2 separate regions of the Homo sapiens genome follow, and region 2 is linked to region 1. The links come from fine-mapping of genetic effects on plasma protein levels. Region 1 holds a variant in brackets. A gene starts in the other region. All regions are shown on their forward strands.

The links. PIP is the chance, under the fine-mapping model, that this variant and not a neighbour inherited with it causes the effect. The UK Biobank Pharma Proteomics Project read protein levels with antibody pairs (Olink). The fine-mapping took linkage between variants from a reference panel, not from the people measured, so its PIPs are less certain.
Region 2: SIGLEC7 starts here. The variant in region 1 is fine-mapped to the plasma level of the SIGLEC7 protein (UK Biobank, PIP 0.96).

The regions. Positions count from the first base shown.
Region 1 is chr17:68,395,376-68,401,214 of GRCh38, forward strand. The region is part of intron 10 of ARSG (arylsulfatase G); the gene reads left to right. Among named protein-coding and RNA genes, the nearest start is that of MIR635, 26 kb to the right of the region's middle. RefSeq lists an enhancer at 3,433-3,792. The variant A/C (reference allele first, on the strand shown) is at 4,210.
Region 2 is chr19:51,137,185-51,146,304 of GRCh38, forward strand. It overlaps SIGLEC7 (sialic acid binding Ig like lectin 7), which reads left to right and starts at 5,117. Exons shown (of 7, transcript NM_014385.4): 1 at 5,117-5,618; 2 at 7,222-7,500; 3 at 7,728-7,775; 4 at 8,671-8,937. The coding sequence starts at 5,186. It overlaps LOC124904749 (a long non-coding RNA gene), which reads right to left and starts at 3,326. Exons shown (of 3, transcript XR_007067310.1): 1 at 3,240-3,326; 2 at 1,601-1,642.

The DNA of each region.
Region 1 (5,839 bases):
TCAGGAGTTCGAGACCAGCCTGACCAAGATGGTGAAACCTCACCTATACTAAAGATACAAAAATTAGCTGAGCATGGTGGCATGGGCCTGTAGTCCCAGCTACTTGGGAGGCTGAGGCAGCAGAATCGCTTGAACCCGGGAGGCAGAGGTTGCCGCCAGCAAGTGGCTGGTTCAGACCCCAAAAGGTGAAGCATTTGAGATGAGCCTCTTTCTACCCCCAACCCCCAGTCCAGATTTATATTTAACAGTTTGGCTTAGGGTGGGTGTATATAGGTTCTCATTCCCTATAATGGGCAATTTCTTTTCCTGCATGTATTTAATTTAATAACATAGCTACCCAGTATTTTTGTTAGATGAGATGACTGACTAGTGTCTGCAACTTGTTTATTGTGAGCCTCACCCTCTAGAATGGAAGCTTCTTGAGGGCAAGAATCTGAGCTGTTGAGTTGAGCTCCGAGTTCTCACTGCCTGCAGTCAGCCAGCATTTCAGTCCATGCAAACTGGATGAACCAATGAAGGAACAAATGAACAAATGAGTGAAAGACCCTTTGGACAGCAGGTCCAGCAAGGGCCTTACATCCAACATTCTCCCAGCTCCAGAGGGCTCAGCACACTCTTGGCAGCCTGTTTTTTTTTTTTGTTTTTTTTTTTGAGATGGAGTCTTGCTCTGTCACCCAGGCTGGAGTGCAGTGGTGTGATCTCAGCTCACTGCAACCTCCGCCTCCTGGGTTCAAGCGATTCTGCTGCCTCACCCTCCCGAGTACCTGGGACTACACCCTCCCGAGCCCATGCCACCATGCTCAGCTAATTTTTGTATCTTTAGTATAGGTGAGGTTTCACCATCTTGACCAGGCTGGTCTTGAACTCCTGACCTCAAGTGATCAGCCCGCCTTGGTCTCCCAAAGTGCTGGGATTACAGGTGTGAGCCACTGTATCCGACCTGCAGCCTGTTCTTGACCAAGCAGACCTTGGCAATGGCTCTGGGCTTCCACTTCCCAGCATCACCTCCTCAATGTCCCCTGTTTGCACTCTGAAGCACTCATTGGCAGTGACAGCCAGGAAATGTCAGGCCTCATGGCCTTTCCTTGTCTTTTCCCTGTGTTTTCCTTTCACCAAAAGGAAGAGGAAGCAGGAGGAGGCAAGGAGGCGGAAGGAGCACAGAGTCCCCTCTGCAACGCCCTACAAATGCATGGCTTCTTGGTGAGGGACCCACACATCAAAGGGTCTATTTGTGTCTTTGCTAAGGGTCACATGGAAGTGACTCAAATGTACAGAAGTGTCCTGTGGCTGGTAGTTACCAAAGCTGCCCTTCCCACCCAGCCTCCCCCAGCAAACCAGAACATGGGTCTTCTATGGGCCATCGGTTCTTCTGTGCACATTAATGCAGTTTTTAGGGGTTGTTGGATGAAGCCTGAGAGGTGTTCTGAAGTCCTGCTTCTCCCCAGAATATCTGCCCCCTAGAGCTGCAGACCCTTCCAGGCCTAGCCCTTCTCCCTAAGCAGGAGCAGCCAGGCAGGAAGATGGTTTCCGCCTTGAGGTTGGAAGTTAGCAGTATGTGACCCTGGAGGGTTGTCACAGACGTCATTGGAGAGGTGCTCCGGAGTGTTTATTACCATGGCTGCTAGGAATAATTGGGGTCATCAGGAAGTGCTTCAAGGACTGTGCTCTCCTTGACGTTGTCGGTACTGCCTGTGGGAGCCAGCTCCTTCATGTACTAACTTCCTTTCTCAGACGGGAGAGCTCTGCTCTTGCTCTAACTGGAGTTTTGCGCAGGCTCGTAGAGACCCCATCCTAACTAGTGCCCAGCAGGGTTAGGCCCAGGAACCAGATTGGAAAACCAGATACAAGTCACAGCATCGTCACGGGGAGGTATGATGGCGTGGTTAATGCAGCTGGAGTCAGGACTGATTTGCTCCCTAACCACACCCCATGGCCCAGAAAGAAACAGCCATGCTTACTGCTTGTGGGAAGCAGCTGATGGTATCTTCAAGGTTAAGAGCACACGGGGCTGGCACCTGTGGGTCACACTCAGTCTCCCAGAGCATGCCTGCAGTGTCAGTGAAGACACTTGAGATAAGATTCTGAAGTTTGAGGACAACATGGGTAGTTGCTGGACCTGAATTTGGGTTTGGTCTTCTCTAGTCAGTCCTCTCTATCAAAGCAAAGTCATAGACCTAAGGAAATAAGAGTAAATTGTCTCAAATTTGGAATAGCTATGGGGGAGGCTTGAAGGTAAGAATATGAGGAATTATATATATATACACACACACACAATATTCTATACATACTTACATGTATGCATATGTGTGCATACGTCTATACATGTGTGTTATACGTGTGCATGCATATTCTAGACGTGTATGCATATGCATGTTTTGTTTTAATTTAATTTAATTTTATTTTATTTTTTGAGAGGAGTCTCACTCTGTCGCCCAGGCTGGAGTGCAGCGGCACAATCTTGGCTCACTGCAACCTCCACCTCCTGGGTTCAAGCGATTCTCCTGCCTCAGCCTCCCAAGTAGCTGGTATTACAGGCGTTCACCACCACGCCTAGATAATTTTTGTATTTTTAGTAGAGACAGGGTTTCACTGTGTTGGCCAGGCTGGTGTCAAACTCCTGACCTCAGGAGATCTGCCTGCCTCGGTCTCCCAAAGTGCTGGGATTACAGGCGTGAGCCACTGTGCCTGGGCTGCATATGCATGTTTATGTACCATGTATGTATATTCATGTATGCATATCCACATCTGTATACATACATGCATACATATGTATGCATATGCATGCTTATACCACACATGCATACACATGTTCGCATATGCATGTGTCTATATAAACATACATATGCATGCTTATGTTTATACACTATACATGTGTACATATGTATGCCTATGCATGTCTATGCACATATATGTATACACATGCATGCACACACATACATGTATACATATGCATATGTCCAGGCACATAAATAGAGATATACACACATATTTATATGCAGGTGTATGCACATGTATACATACGTGTATATATATGCATATATCAATATACACATACATATGTGTACACAGATGCATATGTCTGTAACATATGCATACATGTGTACATATGTATTTTAAAATAAGCACAATTTGTGTTCACCCTCAGATACATCCTGGGCTTACAAGGATTCCAATATGAGTTGGTTTAGAAACACTTTCAGTTCTAGAAGCTCAAAGTAACTCCTGGATATTCAACTGGGAACAATATGCCAATGCTTCTCAGCAATCCAGTCCTTCCCTATTGCAAACCAAGTAACCAAGAGTTAAGGAGAGGAGCAAGAGAGTTGAGAGGTGTCATGTGCACAATGAGCTCCAGTTCCACACTGGATGGTCTTCTCACAACCCACTCCAGCAACCTCTAGGGACGTTGTCTCTGTGATGTTCGAAACCACATCAGCTGACACCATGCTGCATATTCTTGCATCAGCTCAACCTCCTGCTTCTGATCTTGATGGGTCTGTGTCTAGGCAGTGAGGGGCACCAGGAGAGAGATGAGGGCTGGGAAGGGGAGGGCTGCACAGCCTAGAACCAAAGGTCCCACTTTGTGCTTTCCTGGCTCCCAGATGGAAGCTGAAGGTGGTAACATCATCACTGGTCAGGTCGTGTCTTAGCCCCAGGTTGTCATGATCAGGTCCAGAAATTGTCAACGAAGGAACGTTTCCCCTAACAGCTCTGCATCTGCCCAGCCTCACACAGTCTGGGGCTGCTGTGGGTCATCAAATGCTTGACACGCCCCTGGAGGCCATACATCGAGGAAACAAGCTGAGTTTTAATGTCCAGAAAGAACGCTGATCACTTCTCTTAGGGAGGCCCCTAGTGGCGAGAGATGTCATCTGGCGTGGCTGGCAAACTGACCACCCCCATCCACCCCCTTTGGAGGCTGTAGCTGTGCATCCCCACCTGAATGGAGAAGAAGCCCACCTTCAGGGGATGCTATATCAGCACCCTGTGGGACTTAAGGTAAAGGAATGCTCTCGTGCTTAAAAAACAAAACAAGATAAAATAGAGCAAGAAAGGCCACCAGGAAGGCAAAACAAGTTTGCAGAAGATAAAGTCATCTTTGAAATTTGAACCAGGCATCTGGAGAGCTGTGATTCATGTGTACTTTTGACAGCTTCCTTCCTATATTGATATAAACAAGAAAGCCATAATGGGTCTTCTCAAACAAAC[A/C]AAAAAAATGCATAGACAAGTTCTCCAAAGTCCATCTATGTTTCTGAGAATGAGCCATCCCACAGTTTTGCTTCCTCGTGGATTTTGGAAGTTGCCTCTGGTAACGCCACATAAATAGTGGGAATATAGCAGCCCACCCTCATGGAATTTCTGTGACTGAGACGCAAGTACTGTGACTGATCTGAAGCAGCAACTTCACTCCCATCTTCTGCATGTCCGCGTGCATCGTATATCAGTTGACAATAGATTTTCCAAGTCTCCCACTTCCTGCTGTCTCAAGAAGGAAACAAAACAGTCTCCTGTGGTGAAGAGGCTTGGCTTTCTGCAGGGATGGAAGAAGTGAGGGTTTTCAGTTACGACTTCTTTTCCTGTTTGGAAGGAACCTGCTATCATCATGCGCGCCCTGGGTTTGTGCAGGGATTGTCACGAGAACCTGGAAGCCGCAGGTGTGGGGAGGAGCCCCACCTTGGCGGCATCCTCTCAGAGCTGTGAAACTCCGGGGGACAGCTGTTTACTGCTCCAACAGATGTTTCTCATTTTTTTCTTAAGTCTCGTGTGGAAACTTTGAATCATGTAAGTGCCTTTCCAGCCCTATATACGGTTGTGATTCATACCAAGGCAGTCTCATGCTTTTAGCCCAGACCCACCAACCTACCAAGGACACTGGCCTTTTGTTTTCTTTCACATCCTTCCCTCGAGAACCCTGATTTAGGTGTTTCCATTCTGTACGGTAATTCTTTTATTTGTGACCTGATGAGGAAAGATTTCCTCAGTCCAAATATAGTCGGATTGAGTCATAGCTGTGGGCGTCTGTGACCAGAGTCTGGGCTGTGCCCGATTCTGCGGAAATCAAGGATGCCTTCTTTTGTACCATCCTTGCTCAAGGGAGAGTTGGAACATTGACTTGATGCTGAAGAAGCCTTTCTTCAAAGACAGCTGAGGGTCACCTGCATCAGAACCCTTGGAAATACTTGTAAAACAAGTAAGTCCCCAGGGCCCATCCTGACCCTGAGGGGTTGGAACTCAGGCAGGGTGGCCTTGTGGGCCTGTGACCGGTGCCCCCCACACACAGAGCCCTGCACTTGGAGGGACCCTGTGCTTGGTTTAAAGCTCTGCCGTGGTCATCATGAAATTTTAAGTTTGTGAACAAGGTATCCCTGATTTGCATTTTGTTGTGGACTTTGCAAATTACATAGCAGGTTTCAGGCCTAGAAATCTGACCTACCTAGTGAGACCTTTTGCCTACTCTTCCAGAGTTGTAACCCACTCCCATCAATTAACCAGCAAAATAACAACTTCACAGGCTCCCTGGAGTTGACTGGTGTGGACTCCAGGCTTGTATCTGTCAGTGTGTGTTTGGGCACAGGGATAGGGAGACCAGACCCTGAAAAAGACAGTAATATGTTCCAGGGAGCATCTAGCATCATCTAGCATGTTTTATTTTCTTTTGCTGTTTCGAGACAGGATCTTGCTCTATCACCCAGGCTGGAGTGCAGTGGTATGATCATAGCTCACTGCAGCGTTGACCTCCCAGGCTCAAACAATCCTCTCACCTCAGCTTCCAAGTAGCTAGGACCACAGGTGTGCACCACCATGCCTGGTTAACTTTTGTATTTTTTTGTAGGGAGGG
Region 2 (9,120 bases), not on the chromosome of region 1:
CTCAGCTGTGAGCCCTGCCCTGATGTCTCCCCCACTTTCTGCCCCTTGAGCCTCTTCTTGGACATGGTGCCTCCATCCCCCACCCCCGACTCTTCAGTTATCCCAGTCAGGACCCAGGACTTATTCCAGTTGCCTCCTGTTTTCAACCACCCCATGCATGAGTCAGGGGTTCCTGTAAACTTCACTTCCCCAAAAATGTCTGCCATCATGCCCTTCCTCCTCCCTCCATTCCCTGTCTCCTCCCCTCTATCTGCATGGCCAGGCCCTTTTCGGTCTTGACGATTGCTCCATTTCCCACCCAACATCCCGGTCTGCAGCCTCTCGCCTCCATGCTGTGGCCCTCGCAGCACAAGCCCTGAAAAATTTTCCTGCATCCAGAGCTGACACTGCCTCTTCCCTGCTCAGGGCCCTCTCTGGTTCCCTGGAACCCTCAGTCCAAGCTGTTCAGCTGATCATGTCCCAGCACCTCCAATTTCCCCCTGGAAGACCCCACACATATTTGCAGGGCCCTTCATCTGCCCGGCTGTCTCATGGCCTGTGCTTTTTCCCCTCCACCTGAGGTGCCCTTAGCCACCTGTTAATATGACCAACTCCCCCACTAGTCTCAGCTCAGCCTCTTTCCCTGCGGGGTCTTTCAGCTTTTTGAACTCCTGGATTTGCATTCGTGAGTATGTGTCACACAGTCAGGTGTCTCCTCTTTCTGTTTTTGTGGGGTTGTGGGAGAGACAGCCTCTCAGCTCCACCCTCCCCGCTCTCACTGTTTTCCTCACTCAACCCTGAAGACCCTGAGCAATGGCACCTCGCTTCCTGTCCTGGAGGGTCAGTCCCTGGGCCTGGTCTGTGTGACTGACAGCAACTCCCCCGCCTCACTGAGCTGGTCTCAGGAGGGAAGAACACTGAATCTCTCCCAGCTCTCAGCAACTGGGATCCTGGAGCTGCCCCAGAAAGGGACTGGAGGTGAAGGCGACCTCACCTGTGAGGCTCAGCACCCACTGGGCTCCCAGCACATTTCCCTGAGCCTCTCTGTGCAGAGGGAGCTGCTGGACGGGTGCTGGGGCAGGCAGCCTGGTCAGGTGTTGGGCTGTGAGAGGGGCCTAGACCTAGGAACAAAACCTCACCCTCTTCTCCCCACTCCCAGGAAGTCCCTCTGGGTGCAGATGTGCGAGTGAAGATCAGGAGGGCTCCCAGCCCCTGGTTCTCACCTAATCAAGGGGCGCTCATGGGCACTGGTTTTTCCTTCACCCGTGGCCTCACCTGGGGCTACTACTCCAGGTGAGCAGGGCTGCTCTTTTCTAGGGAAGCCGAGGGATTGGCCCCCGAGTTCCAGATGGGGCTGAGCTGTCCTGTCCCGCCTGAGTTAGAATTGAAGTGGCCGATGCTAATCTGAGGCCGGTGTTGGCTCTACAGGTGTGGAGGCCCCCAGGGGAGCAGGGCTGAGAGGCCTGACTGAGCCCCTCCTGCTCAAGACAGAACTCAGATGAGGACACCCAGCCCTGCGGGACAGATGCAGGACATCACTGTCAGCCATGGCTCAGCCCTTCTGACCACTGAGATGCTGCAACTTCCCCTCCTGGGAGGGAGCGATTGGGCAAACACTTACCCTTTGCTGGAAATCTCAAGGCACAGCACGGGTGCTCACAATCTGAATACAGAACGAATGAATGAATGAATGAATGAATGAATGAAATGTCTTTCCTTATCTCATGTGAGAGACTTGACAGTTCTTTCACTCTCCAAGTAACATCAGCTTCCCCTGTCCCAGCCCAGTCTGTCCTGGGCAGACAAGATTAATTAAGTGGCTCCTGGGCAGACATTGGTGCAGGAGACAGGGCCCAGGAGACCTGTGTGATTTGGGCAATTCGCTTTCTATCTCTGTCCATTCATGCTGCTACAACAAAATACCATAAACTGGCCAGTTTATAAACAACAGAAATTCATTTCTCACAGTTCTGGAGGCTGAGAAGTCCAAGACCAAGGTGCCAGCAGGTTTGGTGTCTGGAGACAGTTTGCTTCCTCATAGATGGTGCCTTTTCCTTATGTTCTCATGTGGTGGAAGGGCTGTGCAAATTCCCCTGGGTCTCTCAGATGAGGGGACTAATCCCATTAGACTAATCCCAGAGTCCTCATAGCCTAATCGCCTCCCAAATCATTATACCTTCTAATACTATCACATGGGGATTCAAATTTCAACAAATGAATTTTGAGGTGACATATTCAGACCATAGCACTTGTCACTGTGGACCTTGATGTCTTCCTCTCCGAACTGTGGAAGTGGGAGTAGAGGGCTTGTCAGCTCCCCTGGGTCATATGTGGTTCACAAGTTCCTCCTTTCTACAGATTCTGTGGCTTCCTTAAGTCTCTCCTTCCCATTTTTTTTTCTGATTTTAATTGCAAACTGGGGACTGTGGGAAAGAGATGGGCCATGGTCTAGCCCTTCTGAGGCAGGAGGAGCATAGACCAATGGGGCAGGAGCATAGCAAAGAGAATTAAAAGTTGGATAAAGGGCAGAATAAGTAAAAGCAGAGAGCAGAAGCAAGGTGAGGGGACGGGTGAGCAAGAAGCAAGAGGCAGAAGTTGAGCAGCCAAAACAAAAAGTAAGATAGAGAAGTGAGCAAGGACACCCGTGGCCAGCAGGATCTGGACCAAACCAGTAAGGGGCAGTTCTTCAGAGCTATGCATGTGCATTAGAGAGAAAAAGTATCCTTAACATGACCCTGTATGATAATCAGCTCATTAAAGTTCATGCATATGGACTGCATATTATCCATGTACTTAAAATTATGGGATGGGTCAAAGTAACTAAGCAACATACTTAACCATCAAAAAGGCAGGCACTGGCCAGGCGCGGTGGCTCACGCCTGTAATCCCAGCACTTTGGGAGGCCAAGGTGGGCGGATCACTTGAGGTCAGGAATTCAGGACCAGCCTGGCCAACCTGGTGAAACCCCATCTCTACTAAAAATACAAAAATTAGCCAGGCATGGTGGCGGGCGCCTGTAGTCCCAGCTACCAGGGAGGCAGAGGCAGAAGAATCGCTTCAACCCAAAAGGTTGAGGTTGCAGTGAGCCAAGATTGTGCCACTGCACTCAAGCTTGGGTGACTTCGTCCCCACCTCACCACCACCCCTTCCCCCCGAAAAAAGGCAGACACTGGATAGAGATTTGGCAGCCTTGGGAAGCGAAGAAAAACAAAAAAACAAACAAACAAACATAAAAAGACCCAAAGTAATGCTGATCTCACCTCATAGAGATCAGTTCGCTCTCCCTCTCCAAGAGTGTGATACTGTGCTTAATAAACTGCTGCTTCTTGCTTTGCTGTCTGTGTGTGTCTCATCCAATTCTTTGTTTAAGACACCAAGAGCCTGGAACTGCATGGCACCATCCGGTAACACTTCTGCCCACTGAGATACTGCAAATATCCTTATGGGGAGAGAGTGGCTGGGCAAGGAGGAGGCGCCCAGGAGGCAGATTGGTCTGCAGGATGAGATACTAGCTGCAAATGCAGGGATTGGAGGTGAGGGCGGGGAGTGGCTTCGGACGCCCAAACCCAGCATCTTCCTCTCTCAATCGTTACAGCCAAATGATCTCTAGGTTATGGACAATTAGGGGACAGTGTGGGCTGAGCAGATCAATGCAGTTGTATGGAAGAAAACAGACTGGGATTTTCTATGTATACAACATCTTCAGGAAAACCTACGTGAAGTTAGAATTTTCAAGGCAGCATGTGCCGATGATAAAACTACATAGAACAGCAGGAAGACTATTATCATTAAAGTGAGGCTAGGGGCTCCTTCAGGAGGGAGCGGGGGCATGGCCAATAGGAAAGGGGAATGTAAGGGTGAATGAATTAATAAAATCTCTTTCTTCATTTCAAGGGACAGACTTGACAGTTCTTTTGTGTTCTAGTTCTTCAAGGGTGCTTATTTTGTGTGAATCACTGAGTTGGTTTTTAGGGGACACTTTTATGTACATGTCTTGTGTTTCTCCCCGCTCAAAAAAAACTGTTTCAAGAAAAGCTGGCCTGGATCTAAGGGGGCTGCAGCTTGCAGGATTTTTCCCACTTCCTCCCAGCCCAGTCACACAGTTTAAAATAATCTTCTGTTGAAGTCAGGTGCGTGTTTCTTCTCTCAGAAAATCGCGCCCATCACTGAGGGTGGACGCCCCGGGGCTGGTGTCTTTGCTCCACGTCTCCTGTTCACCTGAACCCCTAGGAGCAGTTCCTGCAGGAGCAAAGCCCCAGGGCCAGCAGACCCCTCACACTCTGCACTAACCAGGCCTCATGAGATAGCAGTGGTGAAGGGAAATGTCCTTGTGCTCAGAGAGCTGTGAGGATGGGAATAGTGTCTGCTCTTTTCATATTGATCCTTTCCCTTATGACTTTCCTGTCTACCAAGCCCCACAATACAACAATCACAGCCTCAGCTTCCCCGGCCTCCTGCAGGCTGGGCTCCCCTCCGTGTCCTTGGCGTGTATCAACAGGCGCAATCCTCACCTTCACAGCCCCATGTCCGTCTGCTCGGTCCTCCTGAGACTGAACCCCCGACCTAGGGGAGAGTGACCCCACCCTGCCTGTGCCCCCCACTGAAGCTCCTGTCATGGGGAGCTCAAACGTCAGGAGACTCAGTGTCTCCCCACCACACAGTGACTCCTTGGGGACAGTGTCCGGCTCTGCTGTGTTGACCTCATTGTGCAGAAAGGGGGTGCCCACCTCGTGGCTGCTGAGGGAGGGATGAGAGGCTGCCTGTTCACCCCACCTGCACCCCTGTCTCTCATGGCCCCGAGTCCCACTTCTGAGCTACGCAGACATCCACAGCCTGTGACTCAGGGGTCTGGGCAGATGGGAGTTATTTTCACCCTGCAGAAAATATCACCTAAAGGGAAAGGCATTGAGAGGGAGGCAGGAGGTGGGGTGGGCCCTGCATGGGGTGGGAATCTGGGTGAGTCTGTCTCCCGCTCTGGCCTCAGGGACCCAGGAGTGAATGTCGGGTGGTGGACGGTGGATCTCCCAGGGCTGACCCAGCCCTGACAGTGTCTGTGTGTGAAGTTCTTCTTCTAAGGAGGTCACTGTTTTGACCTCACCACCGACTTCCTGTAGGGCCTCTTCTAAGTCTTGAGCCCGCAGTTCCTGAGAGAAGAACCCTGAGGAACAGACGTTCCCTCGCGGCCCTGGCACCTCCAACCCCAGATATGCTGCTGCTGCTGCTGCTGCCCCTGCTCTGGGGGAGGGAGAGGGTGGAAGGACAGAAGAGTAACCGGAAGGATTACTCGCTGACGATGCAGAGTTCCGTGACCGTGCAAGAGGGCATGTGTGTCCATGTGCGCTGCTCCTTCTCCTACCCAGTGGACAGCCAGACTGACTCTGACCCAGTTCATGGCTACTGGTTCCGGGCAGGGAATGATATAAGCTGGAAGGCTCCAGTGGCCACAAACAACCCAGCTTGGGCAGTGCAGGAGGAAACTCGGGACCGATTCCACCTCCTTGGGGACCCACAGACCAAAAATTGCACCCTGAGCATCAGAGATGCCAGAATGAGTGATGCGGGGAGATACTTCTTTCGTATGGAGAAAGGAAATATAAAATGGAATTATAAATATGACCAGCTCTCTGTGAACGTGACAGGTAAGGCACGGGCTCCAAGAGAGGCCAAAGGCAAATGTGATGAGGGCTTTAGGGCACGGCTGAGACGGGACACATGTCCTGGGAGGGGGCCGGGGGTGATGGACTCAGGAGAGGAGCTGGACCAGAGCCTGAGCTTCCCCAGGACCGCACCTTGGATGCCCCTCCTGATCCTGCAGGCCCCTCCCCTCACCAGCCCTGACCCACAGGCCTGACATCCTCATCCTGCCTCTGACGCTGGCATTGTGGCATGTGGGGCCTTATGACTCCTTGTTTTGGGGCCTGTCCTAGGCATGGCCGGGGTTTAGCACCATCCCAGGCCTCTCCCCACCAGATGCCAGAAGCACCCACTCCACCCATGCAGTGAGACAATAACAATTATCTCCACACATTGTTAAACGTCCTGGGGGGTTAAGTCCTCCCCAGTTGAGAGCCTTAGGTCTACACAACCCCGTGACTCTCTCAGGCCAGGCCAGGGAGGAAGCACTTCCTGGCGCAAACCAAGGGCAGCAGAGGCACCTGAGCCTGGACAGGGAGACTCAGCACACGGCCCCTCCATCTCTCATGCCCTGAGGTCCTCGGAGATCCACATTTAGATGCTCAAAAGACAGGAGGGACCTCCACGATGGTCCAGAGGCCGGGAGGGCAGGACCTACGTGTCTGGTGCAGGCCCTGGTGCTCCAGGGAAGCCCGGAGGTAGGAGGTGGGACACGGTCTCTTCTCCTCCCTGGGTGGGTCTCTAGGGTCTCTGAGCTTCAGGGTTTCCTTCACTCTGTGCAGAGGGAACCAGTTCCTATAGCATGTGGGTTTGTAGTTTCTCTTTCGTGCTGGGTTGAGGTCTCCAGCTCCTCTCCAGCCCCTCTCCAGCCCCCTGTGGGTCCCACAGCCCTGCCCCTCCTCTCCCTCCCACTTCTCTGCTCACACAAGGAGCCCAGGAACCCTCTGTCTCAGAGATGCTGCTGCCTCTCTTGTGGGCAAATGAAGAGAGGGACAGTCGGGGCTGGGCTGAGCCTCATTTCCCCACAGCGTCCCAGGCCCCACTGTCAAGATACAGGCTGGAGGTGCTGGAGTTGGTGATGGTGCAGGAGGGCTAGTGCGTCTCTGTGCCCTGCAGTGTCCTTTAACCCTATTACAACTGAACTGACTCTAGCCCTGTCCATGGATGCTGGTTTAAGAAAGGGATCAATATACAATGGAATAATCCAGTGGCCACAAACATCCCAAATGGAAAAGTGCAGGAGACACGGGGCCGATTCCACCTCCTTGGGGACCTGAAGACCAACAACTGCTCCCTGAGCATCAGAGATGCCAGGAAGGGGGATTTGAGGAACTACTACTTCCAGGTGGAGAGAGGACAGATAAGATGGAATTACAAAACGAAGCAGCTCTCTGTGAATGTGACAGATAAGGCACAGGCTCCAGGAGACACCACAGGGAAAGGTCATGGGGGTGGCAGCGAAAGCCTGGGATGGGGCCCCTGCCCTGGGAGAGGGCTGAGGGTGAAGCGAGTTGGGCTCAGGGCAGAAGCTGAACCAGAGCCTGAGCTTCCCCCAGGGCTGTACCATGGATCCTCTGTCCTGATCCTGAGTCCCCCTCTCTTCACCAGCCTTGACCCACAGGCCCAACATCCTTATCCCCGGTACCCTGGAGTCTGGCTGCTTCCAGAATCTGACCTGCTCTGTGCCCTGGGCCTGTGAGCAGGGGACGCCCCCTATGATCTCCTGGATGGGGACCTCTGTGTCCCCCCTGCACCCCTCCACCACCCGCTCCTCAGTGCTCACCCTCATCCCACAGCCCCAGCACCACGGCACCAGCCTCACCTGTCAGGTGACCTTGCCTGGGGCCGGCGTGACCACGAACAGGACCATCCAACTCAATGTGTCCTGTGAGTGCTGAGCCAGGACGCCCTGGTCCCTGATGAGGGGGGGACGTCCCTGAGGGCAGAGGATGGGGTCAGGGCTCGACACTGGGTGCTGGGTCCCAGAATCTGGGCTGGTTGTGGGATCAGGAGGACGCTGGCTCCGCCTTCCCCATTTATGCAGCTCCTGGGGAGACAGGGCCAGTGTCCCCAGCCCTCACAGTGATGCAGGTCTCCATGTCTTTCTGTCCCAGACCCTCCTCAGAACTTGACTGTGACTGTCTTCCAAGGAGAAGGCACAGGTAGGATGGAGCCCCCTCCCTGGGGCTGGGGGAGCAGGGCCTTCAGCTCAGGGCAGGGCCAGGTCCCTCCTCATCCTGGACTCACCCTGGTGATATGAGACTCCCTTGTAGTTGAACCCAGGCCTCCTCCCCATCCTTAGCCTCTGTGGCCACCTGAGCACCTGTCCTCTTCCCCCCACTCCCCTCAGACTCTTGCACACACACCCTCCTCAGCCCTGCAGCCAGGACAGGGGGAAATACATATAGCAGGAGCAGCCTTTGGGCCTCTTATCTTCCATCTCCTGAATATGCCACCTAACTCGTCTTTTTATTTTACCCAATAGTTTTGAGCTACGTTCTTTTGGATACATGCTATAATCACGTGGGCAAAAATTTTAAATTCACAGTAAAATGTGTCCCCAGAATCAACCAGGGTCTGTCCAGGCTGTCCTGAGCCTTGGTTTGTGCACCTGGAAGATCTCAGAGGTGGTTTGATGTCAGCAGTGAGACTGTTTGCACCCTCTTCTAGGGATGTGTGTGATTCCACTGTCTGAATAGTCTCTGATTTTGTGGCATCTCCTAATGGAAGATCATGGCACTAATTTTATCCTACGGCACGAACACTGCAATGAATAATGTTGTATCTACTCCCACAAGGAATATCTAAGTGTATAGGATAAATTCCTAAAAGCACATTTTACCAGTGTCATATGTTCTTTCTGATTTTGAAAGATATGGTGAAGTTGTCCTCAAATAAAGGTGGGCAAGTTTACATTCCCAACAGTGAGCGGTGAACATAAGTATGTCCCTGCACCAGCCTACATCACTCTCTGTTCCATTCCCCAGTCTCATTCTGTATCCTTCCTCCCTGTTTCAATCACTTTGTCTCTTTGAACCTCCAACTTTTTCTCTACAGCATCCACAGCTCTGGGGAACAGCTCATCTCTTTCAGTCCTAGAGGGCCAGTCTCTGCGCTTGGTCTGTGCTGTTGACAGCAATCCCCCTGCCAGGCTGAGCTGGACCTGGAGGAGTCTGACCCTGTACCCCTCACAGCCCTCAAACCCTCTGGTACTGGAGCTGCAAGTGCACCTGGGGGATGAAGGGGAATTCACCTGTCGAGCTCAGAACTCTCTGGGTTCCCAGCACGTTTCCCTGAACCTCTCCCTGCAACAGGAGTACACAGGTGGGTAAGGGAGGGGCTGGAGGAGGAGAACACACCTGCCCCACCCTCATGGGCCACCCACTGCCCCTGAGCTTCAAGGGGGAGCTCAGCTCTGGTCTGTGCTCAGCTGTGAGGCCTGGAACTTCCCTGCAACCCAGGGCACTGCTGTCCTCTTCCTGCCAGGAAAGGTGTGTAAGGCAGGAA